2 linked regions of the Homo sapiens genome follow. The protein of the gene in region 1 interacts with the protein of each later gene in a pairwise test. Each region holds a gene or a part of one and is shown on either strand. Other genes may lie near its edges.

Region 1 (6,463 bases):
CCTTTCCTTTCCCTTTGGCCAGGTCTGTGACGAGCCCCACCCACTGCTGGTAAAGGAGATGATCCAGCACTGTGTGAATGCCAACATTGACGAAGCCTACAAGGTTGGCCTCCTTCCCCCCGTCCTGGCAGAGGAACCGCTCACTTCTTGGGCAGAGGAGAGCGGGAGCCCTTCTGGTACCAGGGACATTATACACATCACTCCATTCATTCTTGAAATCTTACTTGGGAGACTGAGGCAGGAGGATTTGTTGAGCCTTGGAGGTCAAGGCTGCAGTGAGCTGTGATTGCGCCACTGTACCCCAGCCTGGGTGATGGTGAGACCCTGTCTCAGGAAAAAAAAAAAATTATTAATATCATGCTATGTGTTAATCTGTCTAGGAACTGGAAAAAAAAAATTATGCTAGGAGTTGGGTGCACTTTACTGATGAGAAAACTGATTCAGAGGCTGAATTCCTTGTCCTAAATCACTGTGTTTGTTTATTTATTTATTTATTTATTTATGTAGAAACAGGGTCTTACTCTGTTGCCCAGGCCGGAATGCACTGGCGCGGTCACAGCTCACTGTAGCCTCTACCTCTCAGGCTCAGGCGATCCTCCCACCTCAGCCTCCCAAGTAGCTGGGACTACAGGCACATGTCACTATGCCCAGCCCTAAGTCATGGTTTAAAAGCAGTAGAACTAGAATTCAAAATGGTGTTTTTCTCCTGTAATTATATCCTCTGCAGGAGAAATTTGTCAGCCAAAGTCAGGAGGAAAGACCAGCCTAGCTCCTTCTCCAGGGAAGCCATCTTCTCTCCAGTTAAGGGGAAGTGTCCCCATCCATTCTCATAGGCACAGGCATTCTGGGATCCAGCAGCCCCCAGCTAGCCAGGAGAGGAGGGAGCAGGAAGATTCTAGCCTCACAATGGGACTGAGTGCTGTGAGCAGATTCCAGCAGATGTGGCTGGGGTTCAGGCGACCTCAAGCCACATGGGTGTGGTGTGGTTGGTGTGGTTCAAGGTCATTGATCCAGTCATGGTTTCCCTCTGCCTACCCCCTAACAAACTAGGTTGGAAGTTGACTGGGTTTAGGGCATAGTTCCACCCAATGTGAAACCGGAGTGCAAGGCGGGGAGACTGAGCAGAGACCCAGGCCCAGGGTCCCTGAGTAGACCTGAAGAAAGCCTTCAGATTTGTGGGCACAGAGCTTCTCTGCCTCCTGAATTCACCCCAAGATGCCAAAACAAAGGCAAAAAGGCCTGCCTCCAGACGCTGCAGCCTGGGTGGGGCAGGGTGGGTGGGAAGCAGGAGGCTGGGATTACCCAGTCAGGGTGTGCTCCAGGCTCGTCCTGCAGAGGTTGCATTGGGACTGCAGCTGGATGAAGCTAGCAGATGAATGGTCTGCTTTTTCCACTTTGCTATACCTAGTCATCAGATTAATAAAGCATTTTAAGAGCTCCGGATCAAGAGATTACATGGGTGTGGTAGTAGACCATTTTGCAACACAGCTTAACACATTTGCGATAGGCTGGGCTCAGTGGCTCATGCCTGTAATCCCAGCACTTTTGGAGGTCGAGGCAGGAGGATTGCTTGAGGCCGGGAACTTGGGACCAGCCTGGGCAATATAGCAAGACTCTTATCTTTATATTACTGAAAAAAAAATATTTAAGCAAAACAACAATACATTTGCAATGTTATCTCTCTATCTGCCATGAAAATCAGTTAAGGTACCCCCATGTGACCTGAAGGGTGGGCCCCACCAGCTGTGGTGAGTCTCAAAATCACATGTCTTCTTACAGTTTAAAGTGGTAAGCAGCCTTTTCTGTCTCCTTTGTCTAGATTCTTGCTCACTTGTGGCATCTGGGCTACTCACCAGAAGATATCATTGGCAACATCTTTCGAGTGTGTAAAACTTTCCAAATGGCAGAATACCTGAAACTGGAGTTTATCAAGGTCGGTGAGAATGTAGAAATGCCTCTGTCCTCAAGAATGTGGCCCATAGTGGCCGGGTGCTGTGGGCCACACCTGTAATCCCAGCACTTTGGGAGGCCGAGGTGGGCAGATCACCTGAGGTCAGGAGTTCGAGACCAGCCTGGCCAACGTAGTGAAAGCCTCTGTCTACTAAAAATACAAAAATTAGCTGGGCATGGCTGGGCGTGGTGGCTCATGCCTGTAATCCCAGCACTTTGGGAGGCCGAGGTGGGCGGATCACCTGAGGTCAGGAGTTTGAGACCAGCCTGGCCAACATGGCAAAGCCCCATCTCTACTAAAAATACAAAACTTAGCTGGGTGTGGTGGCAAGCGCCTATAATCCCAGCTACTTGGGAGGCTGAGGGAGGAGGATCGCTTGAACCTGGGAGGTGGAGGTTGCAGTGAGCCAAGATCGCACCACTGCACTCCAGCCTGGGCAGCAGAGCGAGACTGTCTCAAAACAAAAAAAAAAGACTGTGGGCCCTGGCTTCGCTTTCTCTGCTCACAGGCCTGGCATCTAGAAGGTGCTCAGTGTTTCCCAACTGCAGTGGGAGGGAGGCTGTGTCTTAGTTCCTTTGAGTTACTATAAAGGAATACCAGAGACTGGGTAATGTAGAAAGAAAAGAGGTTGATTTGGCTCACAGTTCTGCAGGCTGTACATGTAGCATGATGCCAGCATCTGCTTCTAGGGAGGGGTTCAGGCTGCTTCTGCTCATGTTGGAAGGGGAAGTGGGAGCCTGTGCATGCAGAGACCACCTGTTGAGAACGGAGGGAGGTGCCAGGCTCATTTGAACAGCCAGCTCTCCAGGGACCTAATTGATCCAGAACTCACTCACTACCTTGGGGTGGGCACCAAGCCATTCACGTGGGATCTTCCTCATGACCCAAACATCCCCACATTGGGGACCAAATTCCAAATGAGATTGGAAGGGGACAGACGTCCAAACTAGATCAACGTGGCTGATTGTCCTGAGGACCAAGTTTGTTTCACACAGTTCTGATTTTCTTCATTCAAGGCTCTCTTGTGTATTGACTGATTGATTGATTTTTCAAGGTTAGATTAATTGAGGTTTAATTTACATAGAGTAAAATTCAGCCTGTTAGGTACAGGACAAACGCACTCAGTCATGCAAACACTATCACCATCAGGATGCAGAATCTGTCATCCCAGAACAACTCATGTGTCCCTTTGAAGCCAGCCCCCTCCCCGACTACCACTTGGAAACTACCGATGTAGTTTCTGTTTCATGGGATACAGTTTTCCAGAATATCATATAAATGGGATCATGTAGAACTTAGCCTTGTGAGTTTGGCTTCTTTCTTTCACTGTAGCAGAAATGCCTTTCAGATGTGTCCACGCTGGTACTTCTATCCATGAGTCAGTCCGTGTTATCACTGAGAAGTAATCCATCCTGTGCGTGTACCACAGTTTGCTTATCTGTCCATCAGCTGGAGGACATTTGGGTTTACAGATTGTGGTGACTGTGAATAAAGCCAGTGTAAACATTTGCATATATGGATTAGTGTGAATGCAAATGTTAAGTTTTTCTTTTTCCCAAGTAAGTTCCCAGGGGTGAAATTGCCTGGGAAAATGATAAGTGTATGTTTTACTCGATAAGGAACTGCCAAACGGTTTTCCGAAGTGGCTGCAGCACGTGCATTCCCACCAGCATTCCGGAGGATCCTCAACCTAGCCACCACATGGAGTGCTCAGTTTGGTTTTTAAGCCATTCTAATAGGTGTGTAATGACCGGATGCAGTGGCTTACACCTGTAATCCCAGCTACTCGGGCGGCTGAGGGAGGAGGATCGCTTGAACCCAGGAGGTGGAGGTTGCAGTGAGCTGAGATCACACCCCTGCACTACAGCTTGGGCGACAAGAGTGAGACTCCATCTTAAAAAAAAAAAAAAAAAAAAAACCAATAACAACAACAACAAAATAACCTAATAGGCATGTGATGAGATCTCATTGTGCCTTTAATTTGCATTTCCCTAATTACTATGCTGAACATTTAATCATGTGCTCGTTTGCCATCCAGAATCTTCTTTGATGAAACATCTGTTCATATATACCCATTTTTTAAAATTTTTACATTTTTTATTTTAATTGTACTGTATTTTTTGTTTAGAGATCATGTTAAGACCGGCCAATTTTTATATTTTTGGTGGAGACGGGGTGTCCCCGTGTTGCCAAGGCTGGTCTTGAACTCCCGGGCTCAAGTGATCCTCCCGCCTCGGCCTCCCAAAGTGCTAGAATTACAGGTGTGAGCCACTGCGCCTGGCCTACCTTTTTTATGTTTTTGAGAGACAGGGTCTTGCTCTGTCACCCAGGCTGGAGTGCAGTGGTGCGATCATAGTTCACTGCAGCCTCAACCTTCCATGCTCAAGCAATCCTCCCACCTCAGGCTCCCGAGTAGCTGGGACTGCAGGCATGTGCCACTACACTTGGGTCATTTTTATTTTCTTTTTTTCGTAGAGTTTGGGTGTTGCTATGTTGCCCAGGCCCAACTCTGGGCAAGTGATCCTCCTGCCTCAGCCTCCCAGAATGCTGGGATTACAGGTGTGAGCTACTGCTCCAGGTCTAAATCTACCCATTTTTTAATTGGGTTGTTTGATTTTTATTACTGAATTTATTTACTTATTTATTTTTGAGATGGAGTCTTGCTCTGTTGCCCAGGCTGGAGTGCAGTGGCACTATCTCAGCTCACTGCAACCTTCGCCTCCCAGGTTTAAGTGATTCTCCTGCCTCAGCCTCCCGAGTAGCTGGGATTACAGGCGTGCGCCACCATACCTGGCTAATTTTTGTATTTTTAGTAGAGATGGGGTTTTACCATGTTGGTCAGGCTGATCTCGAACTCCTGGGCTCGTGATCCACCTGCCTTGACCTCCCAAAGTACTGGGATTACAGGCATGAGCCACCACGCCTGGACTTTATTACTGAATTTTTGAGAATTCTTTATACAGTCTGGATGCAAGTTCTTTATCAGATATATAAATATTTTCCTCTAGCCTGGCTTTCCGTGCCACCACCCCGCCCCCCCTCGCCCCACCCATTTTCTTAACAGTTTCTTTGAAAGAACTATCAGCATCCTTTTAAGAAATAAATAGAACTTTAGGTAAACATAATCCATTGCATCTTAGCATTCATTTTCCGGCTGGGGTTGGAATTCCTCATGCTGATTTTGAAAAAACCATTAGTTCAGTTTGTTTCTGTTTTTATTTTTATTTTTTTCAGTTCAGATTTTAAAAAAGAACTCCCCCACTTATTAACCAGATTTGAATTTGGTTTGTTTTTCAGGAAATTGGATACACTCACATGAAAATAGCGGAAGGAGTGAACTCTCTTTTGCAGATGGCAGGCCTCCTGGCAAGGCTGTGTCAGAAGACAATGGCCCCGGTGGCCAGTTAGAGCAGAGACTTCACTGACTGACTTACAGGTGCCCTATTCTGAGGTACAGGAGCCGCGGCTTTCTGATGGGGGAAAATGCCGCCTTAGGCTGGAGCCAACATGACTGTCCTTTAAACTCCAGTGGCTGGCCAGGCACGGTAGCTCACGCCTGTAATCCCAACACTTTGGGAGGCCGAGGCAGGTGGATCACCTGAGGTCAGAAGTTCAAGACCAGCCTGGCCAACATGGGGAAACCCTGTCTTTACTAAAAATATAAAAATTAGCTGGGTGTGGTGGCGGGCACCTGTAATCCCAGCTACTCGGGAGGCTGTGGCAGGAGAATCGCTTGAACCCAGGAGGTGGAGGTTGCAGTGAGCCAAGATCACACCATTGCACTCCAGCCTGGGCGACAGAGTCTCCATCTGGGGAAAAAAATTAAATAAATAAACTCCCGTGACTTGCATGTTTGCTTCTGGGACGTCTGTGCCCCGCAAGTGTTTGAGTTTGGCCTCCACCCCATTGATGCGGTGACGGGGCGGAAAGGCGCAGAGAAGCTGAGGGCGGTCTCTGATCTGTGTGTGGGTTGACATTTTAGCTAATAAAGCCTTGCAGTGTTTGTTGGCAATAAGGTGACCATGTGAAGCCTCGAGAAAAACCAGCTTCCTGTCTCTACGGGCCTTGGCAGCCTACAAGTAGAAAAGGCGATTAGATAGTAGACCCACAAGCTCATCTCGGTTCTTCTAGAAGCCTGAAGGCGCCACTTCCCCAGGGCGAGGGCAGGGTTTGCTGTCTTTCCTATTTAGACTGATTTCTCAGAATGGCCAGGTGGCGAGCCTTTCAGAGAGGGCGGCAGAGTGGAGAGATGCAGCCCAGCCCTCAGGAAAACACCGTGATGCTCTTCCTGTGTTCTAGACCATACTCTTTGCGCTTGCTTTAGAATTCCCCAAAGAATTTCGTACTAATTTGTAGAATTGCCTTTTTTTTTTTTTTGGTAAGATACTATTTTTTTCCCTTTTTGTTTTGTTTTGATTTTTGAGATTGGGTCTCACTCTGTCGCCCAGGCTAGAGTGTAGTGGGCCAATCTTGGCTCACTGCAGCCTCAACCTCTTGGGCTCAAGTGATCCT
Region 2 (6,472 bases), on another chromosome or scaffold:
AGTATACAGTTTTATGCTGCAAAGATGGCATGTGCCATCAAGTGGCTCCAAAAGGCCACATCATCGGTGGCTCCAATGAAGACTCAACCCCAATACAGACCATTCAGATTCACATCCAAACTGCTGCAGAACCACCAACTGCCTCCTACCATGAATCTCACTCATTCACCTCATGGTCACGAGGGCTTCAAAGAGGAATCAGACCTATGCCATCCTCATAAAGGGCATATTTACAATTTCTAATTCTAAAAGAAATGCTATTAATTTTACACACATATTATCCCAATCTTGGGTTTAAAACATTTAAAATTACAAACAAAATCATAATGAACAAGTGAAGGACACTATGCCGCATCCTGGCTGCATGGAGATTCAAGTCTCTCTCCTGGGGGCTGCAGAAGACCTAGGGAGACGTGACTTGCATATCCAAAAGGCATAGAAATGGAAGAACATGAATAGGAAAGCCAGCCTCACCCTACTGGTGAGAAAACCTTTCCTGAAGCATAAGAATTTCAAGATGGACTTTAACAAAGACAGGGTCGTGACTCAGCAGGCAAGGGCTTAGGCAATGTTTTATTTCCATAATGAATTAATCTCCATAAATGACATTTTTCACACTGGTAAATACAGTTTAAATGTCTCAAGAACTTTGTCTCATCACCCAAACAAGACTACCAGTTCCTTAAAGCAGGGAATACGATCCTTATTTTACATTCATTTTAGTATATACCTCACAGAGGTAGCACAGACCTCTGAGCATTTACCAACAAGATTAAAAAATAGCTAGACATCTAAATTCCAGGCTAGGTCCATAGCCTCACGGCCACTCAACACATACAGTTATAGGAATAACCCAAACTTCCAACAGGGTTTGTGGAAGCCATCACAGGACAGGACTAGATCTCTCAGGGGCAAAGTGAACAAAAGCCAGTGTTCATTTTGTCCCCCACCATAGTGAAATTAAGAGCCTGACCCAGCCTGGTTCCTACTGGTCTGAACCTGATGGGTTGAGACTCCAGAAGGATAAGAATGTCTGAGAATCTTCTGCAGCCCCCCACGCTGCAAAGCCCCATAACAGACCACTGCATGAAATCCTATTCACAGCAGAGACGTGGTCAACACACACAGAGGGAGTGAGGCTGGGAATCCGAGTTCTGACTCCTCGACTGCCAATGTTATGTTTCACACAACAGGTTAGTAAGGAATACAGTGAGCTTTTTTAATCCAATCATTTGCAAATTAATAAGGAAGTAATATACCAACATAATATTTTGCTGTACAAGATGACAATCTTAAAAAGAATTTGTACACATATCATGTGGAACATTTTTATTCCTAATTTATACTTTGAAAGATATCTGACAATGTACAAAGAATACCCAGTTCTAGGTGGTGACTGTTTTGTATAATCATTTATTTACAAAATTTCACCACATAATAGGAACTGCCTTTAAAAAAAATCAGCATTGGTCCTATAAAGGCCATTAGGATAAATTCTTAAGCCTACAAAAGACGCCTTAGTACTACTGCTCCCAGGCTCATTATTGTTAACTAAAATCTGACTCCAAAGCCCAGGTGTAGTTTCTAGTTCCAATTCTACAGTCATTCAGAAGCACGTCTAACTAGATTGACAGAGGACAGTGGAGGACCCAAGCAGTCCTATCAACCTCTATAAGAGGTGTACATAAGCCTACTGCTCATACCCTTCTAGCCATACCACCCTTTATTTATAATGGGACACCAGGTCATCCCATTATGCTAAAACATGGTTGCTCTGGGAAAAAACAAGGCTTTCTCTAGACCAGCTGGACTGGTCAGGAGGGAGAGTAAAAAGTGGCTGTCGCTAGTGAAAAATGGTTTCATTTCTTCGAACTTTTTCCTTTTCCTTTTCTGGGCTCCTTATCTTTTTCTGGTTTTGAAGGCTTTGAAGATTTTGTCTTTTTCTGTTAGGGGGAAGATAACAAAATAGTTAATAGCTGTGTTTATGAGTAAATGAAATAAGTTCATCTCTATAACAAATCTAATCTTTACCTGCAACTTAATTAAAAAAGAAGAGAGGCTGCAAACATCGAGATCTTGAACTACTGCAACCCATGAAGCGCTTACAGCAACAACTGCGCCACTTACAGCCTTTAAAAGCTGGCAGTAAAAACTTTTAGTTTAGAATTTAGAACTAGGATCCGTTCCCCATGTAAGACAGTTTCTTGGATTTAGAACAGAGGTATACTTAGGAAAGACAAAATAAGCAAGAGGTAATTGACAAATAGGGTAATGTTTAGATGAAGAATTTCCTCTTCTTTCAGTTTCAGATTAGAGGTGTAAACAGTCATTTTGTGAAAGCAGAAGAGAGGGAGAGAGGAAGACCACCTGTTAGGGTCGACATGGGAGCCACAGTGAAGAAGGCCACTATTCCTACTCCTGCATACAGAAAACAGAAATGAAGGGCAAGAAGCACCCACACCCAGCGAAGGACAGAGGAGGATCAGATGAGGTTCCTTGGCTCAGCCAGCTGTACACAGCAGGCTGATACCACAATTGGTTTTCATATTTCCCATCAAAAGACAAGAATGTTTTGCTCTAAGAAACTTCTACAAAGCAGTTTAGTGGCTATAGCAAAACATAAGCAACAGAAGAAACTGTTTTGTTACAAACATTTTTCTTGAAAGCATACACCAATGGCTAGATAAATAAAAATGGTACTTTTTCTAACAGAACATATGGCCGTCAATATCATGGCCTGTTTTCTTGCTGTTTGGCTCTTCGACTACCATAAGAAACTTTATAAAAATGAAATCTCTACCTTCTCCACCCTCAACCATGATGAACAAAAAAACTTAAGAAGTATTTTCAAGTTATTCTGCTATGTGCTGAAAAGGCCCTATTATTCACCAGGCAAGGAAAGATCATCTATTTTGAGGTTCTCCTGTCTGTGGCTTAAAATACTACCTTGATCATGGCATCAGTTTCTATAGCATCTTGGTCTTTCTCATCAGATTGAGAGTCATCTTCATTTAATTCTTCATTGTATTCCGAATCCAGGGATGGGCTTGTGCTGTGTCTAGATGCCTTTATAGCTTGAAGTGAGTATGGAGTAAGGTGGGCTTCCTTATTGTAAGCTCTTGTGAAGGCTGCTTTCACCTATATGAAAGGAGTAGATGGAGTTTTTAAAAATCTAAGTCCCAAACAATTCTTTTAAACTCTGTAAGCCTAAAGAGACCCTGGGAGCCCCCTGCAACTGTTTGCAAAGTATTTATGTATATACATGTAAATCTAAGTACGTGCATTTTTCTGTGGATAAGTTCCATATTTTTCATAACATTCTTAATAGAGCCCATGACAAAAAAGACTGAAGGTGGGGCACAGTGGCTCATGCTTCTCCATGAGAATCTTGAACCCAGGAGGTGGAGGTTGCAGTGAGCTGAGATTGCGCCACTGCACTCCAGGCTGGGTAACAGAGTGAGATTCTGTCTAAAAAAAAAAAAAATACGTATATATATATTTGGGAACTTTAGGCAAACAAACAAACAAAAGGTCACTTCAAGTCATCATGTTTACCTATTCAGCATTCTCCACATTTCTACAAAGTAGTAAGCAAAGTTAATCAGTGAATCAGTAAATCAAAAAGGGGCTCGGCTGGGTGTGGTGGCTCACGCCTGTAATCCCAGCACTTTGGGAGGCCAAAGCAGGCAGTTCACATGAGGCCAGGAGTTTGAGACCAGCCTGGCCAACATAGGGAAACCCCATTTCTACTAAAAATACAAAACTTAGCCAGGCGTGATGGAGTGCACCTGTAATCCCAGCTACTTGGGAGGCTGAGGCATGAGAATGGCTTGAACCCGGGAGGCAGAGGTTGCAGTGAGCCGAGATCGCACCACTGCCCTTCAGCCTGGGCAACAGAGCTAGACTGTCTCAAAAAAAAAAAAAAAGGTTGGGGGAGCTCATCACAAGATATAAGTTGGCCTTTAATTTCCACAAAACACTAGATACCTTTTCCATAATAAGAGTAGTTACTTCAAAATACTAAGTAACTTGAAAGTCTTACCTTCAAGCTTCTAAACATAATTCCTGAATTAGTCCATGAATTCTAACAATGGATGTCTGCTGTGAGAATTTACTGATAACCATAAAGTCGGGTCAAAATTCTGGGGAGGGCAAACTACAGAGAATATGTCTTCTAAAACGCATTCATTACACAGGTGCAAGAGTTGGGTATTGGATGTTACATATTCATGATGTATCACTTTAGTTTTTTTCGTCTCATTATAAGAAAAGTGGGGATACATTATTACAGAGAAGATTATCCAACTGGAATAAATACTGAATCCACAGATTAGGTAGACTAAGAAAAAGAAAATTTGTACAAATCCTCAGCCAATAAACATATTTTATTTTTACAACCCATTACCACCAGAGCTCACCGCTCAACTTTTAATTCCCTAGACTCATCCACTCATCCTTTATAAAGAATATATTTATATTTGCTCCTCAAATTTCACTTCTTGCTTTTCCACTGAGCATAAAGCAAAGATAAAAATACAAATTGTAAAGTCAAGCCCAGAAGTCTACTCTTAATACTGCATTCAAATAGTATCTTTGGAAAATATAGGCCATAAGAAGCAACAAGCATTTGAGGGGAAAAAGAAGTAAATCTTAAAGCATCTAAAACACCTCCGAAGTATTGTCAGTACAAACCTGGTAATAGAAAGTGACGAAGAACCAGTGAGTGACATGATTTACCTTGGGATCCAGCTTTGAAAAGGGACTAGGTTTGCCACCCCAGCTGCTGATTTCCATGATATTCTCAAAGTCTTCTTTCATCAAATAATATGTGTCCATAAGTGCAACAACATCCTGTACTCCGTCTACTCCTTGTGAGGTCAAGGGCTGTACAAGTGCATCCCTTAGAAGCGACAGATAATCCATGTTTACAGTCCTTTTGCTGGAGTAAGTTCTGAAACCACAACAAAAGAGACATAGTCAACAGCAAAGTATCAACTCAAGTCATACTGTGCATAACAGCACTGAGTTAATCAGGCAGAGTTCAATCCAATTTCAATAATGCTGAATGGAATGCCTACTATTTGACAGCCAGCTGGTGTAGTTTAGAAAGCCCAGCACCACAGCATGAGGGTAATGGGTACACATCAATGTGCCCAAAGGAAATTTTCTACTTACCTACATCAGTGACTGAAAAACATACGTGGATTCTACTTCCACCCTACTCTTAAGGCCCAGGCAACAGAATGTTTCTTTGTGTTCATAAATATGACTCGTTCCAAGTTCCAAAATATTAAAAGCATCAGTATAAGGCAATGAAATTCCCTATCTCAAGTGTGTGAATGTGTATAACACCTTTTGGTCCCTGATTATAACACACAAAATCATATATGAATGCTTCCCTCACATTTCCTAATACTGTTACTCTGAAATCGTCAGTTCTAGAGCCGGCTTTTCTCCAAATCTAAGAAAATTACAGAGTGTTCCCACAAAATCAAAAAGTGATCCACAGTGGCCAGAGGAAGGTTTAGGGAAACAGTCTCTGGTCTGCTGAGAACTCGAATGTTATCATAAAATGACTCTTTCTTTCTCTCTTAAATGTTGTCACTTCTTAAAGACAGAAAGCAACTGAACAAAACAATATTTCAAATGCCACCATCCTAAATCTTTCCAACCCAGCTGCCTCTATCTTCAAACCAGGCATTTATATGTATACATTATTTATTTATTTATTTATTTATTTATTTATTTATTTATTTAAAGACGAAGCCTCACTCTTGTTGCCCAGGCTGGTGTGCAGTGGTGCAGTCTTGGCTCACTGCAACCTCCACCTCCCGGGTTCAGGAGGTTCTCCTGACTTAGCCTCCCAAGTAGCTGGGATTACAGGCACCCGCCACCACACCCGGCTAATTTTTTTTTTTGTATTTTTAGTAGAGACAGGGTTTCACCATCTTGCCCAGGCTGGTCTCAAACTCCTAACAGGTGATCCACCCGCCTTGGCCTCCCAAAGTGGTGGGATTACAGACGTGAGCCACCGCACCCAGCCTGTATACGTAAAACTTCAAAAGTTGTTGTTATCAGAACCAGCATCAGAAGCAAAAAGAAATGATTCTTTACAAATTGTCTATGGGTCCTGCTCCTGCCTTCAAGGAACTGAATGTGTGAACCATAAGAAGCCACAGCTTTTTTCCTGATCAGAAATCTAGACTCACCCTCGCAACTATTACCTAGACAAAGAGTTTTTAAAACTCTCCTAGTTTAATTTCATCCATTTCCTCTAGATTGTCTTCCATAATTAAGCACGCTAGTACTTAAAGGAAGCAGTGTGAGTCCCTAAGCCACAGTACCCCCAGAAATCATGAAACCATTTCCAAAACTGTTCTACAATGTTTTACAGTATCATCATCTTCTAATAGACTCATAGAAAAGTCAAAGATGCCATTTAGTGCACCTAAACCAAGGGTTCTTAACCTCA

The links.
Region 2: the proteins of RFC2 (region 1) and RFC1 interact in binary tests that used the Homo sapiens proteins (3 or more experiments, as listed by UniProt).

Annotation. Positions count from the first base shown.
Region 1 is NC_000007.14:74,231,002-74,237,464, reverse strand, and holds the end of RFC2 (replication factor C subunit 2), read left to right. Parts: intron 1-22; coding exon 23-103; exon of another isoform or gene 104-109; intron 110-1,819; coding exon 1,820-1,933; intron 1,934-5,248; coding exon 5,249-5,359; 3' UTR 5,360-5,963; downstream 5,964-6,463.
Region 2 is NC_000004.12:39,286,902-39,293,373, forward strand, and holds the end of RFC1 (replication factor C subunit 1), read right to left. Parts: intron 4,952-6,472; coding exon 4,738-4,951; intron 3,139-4,737; coding exon 2,947-3,138; intron 1,944-2,946; coding exon 1,860-1,943; 3' UTR 555-1,859; downstream 1-554. UniProt on the Homo sapiens protein: Subunit of the replication factor C (RFC) complex which acts during elongation of primed DNA templates by DNA polymerases delta and epsilon, and is necessary for ATP-dependent loading of proliferating cell nuclear antigen (PCNA) onto primed DNA.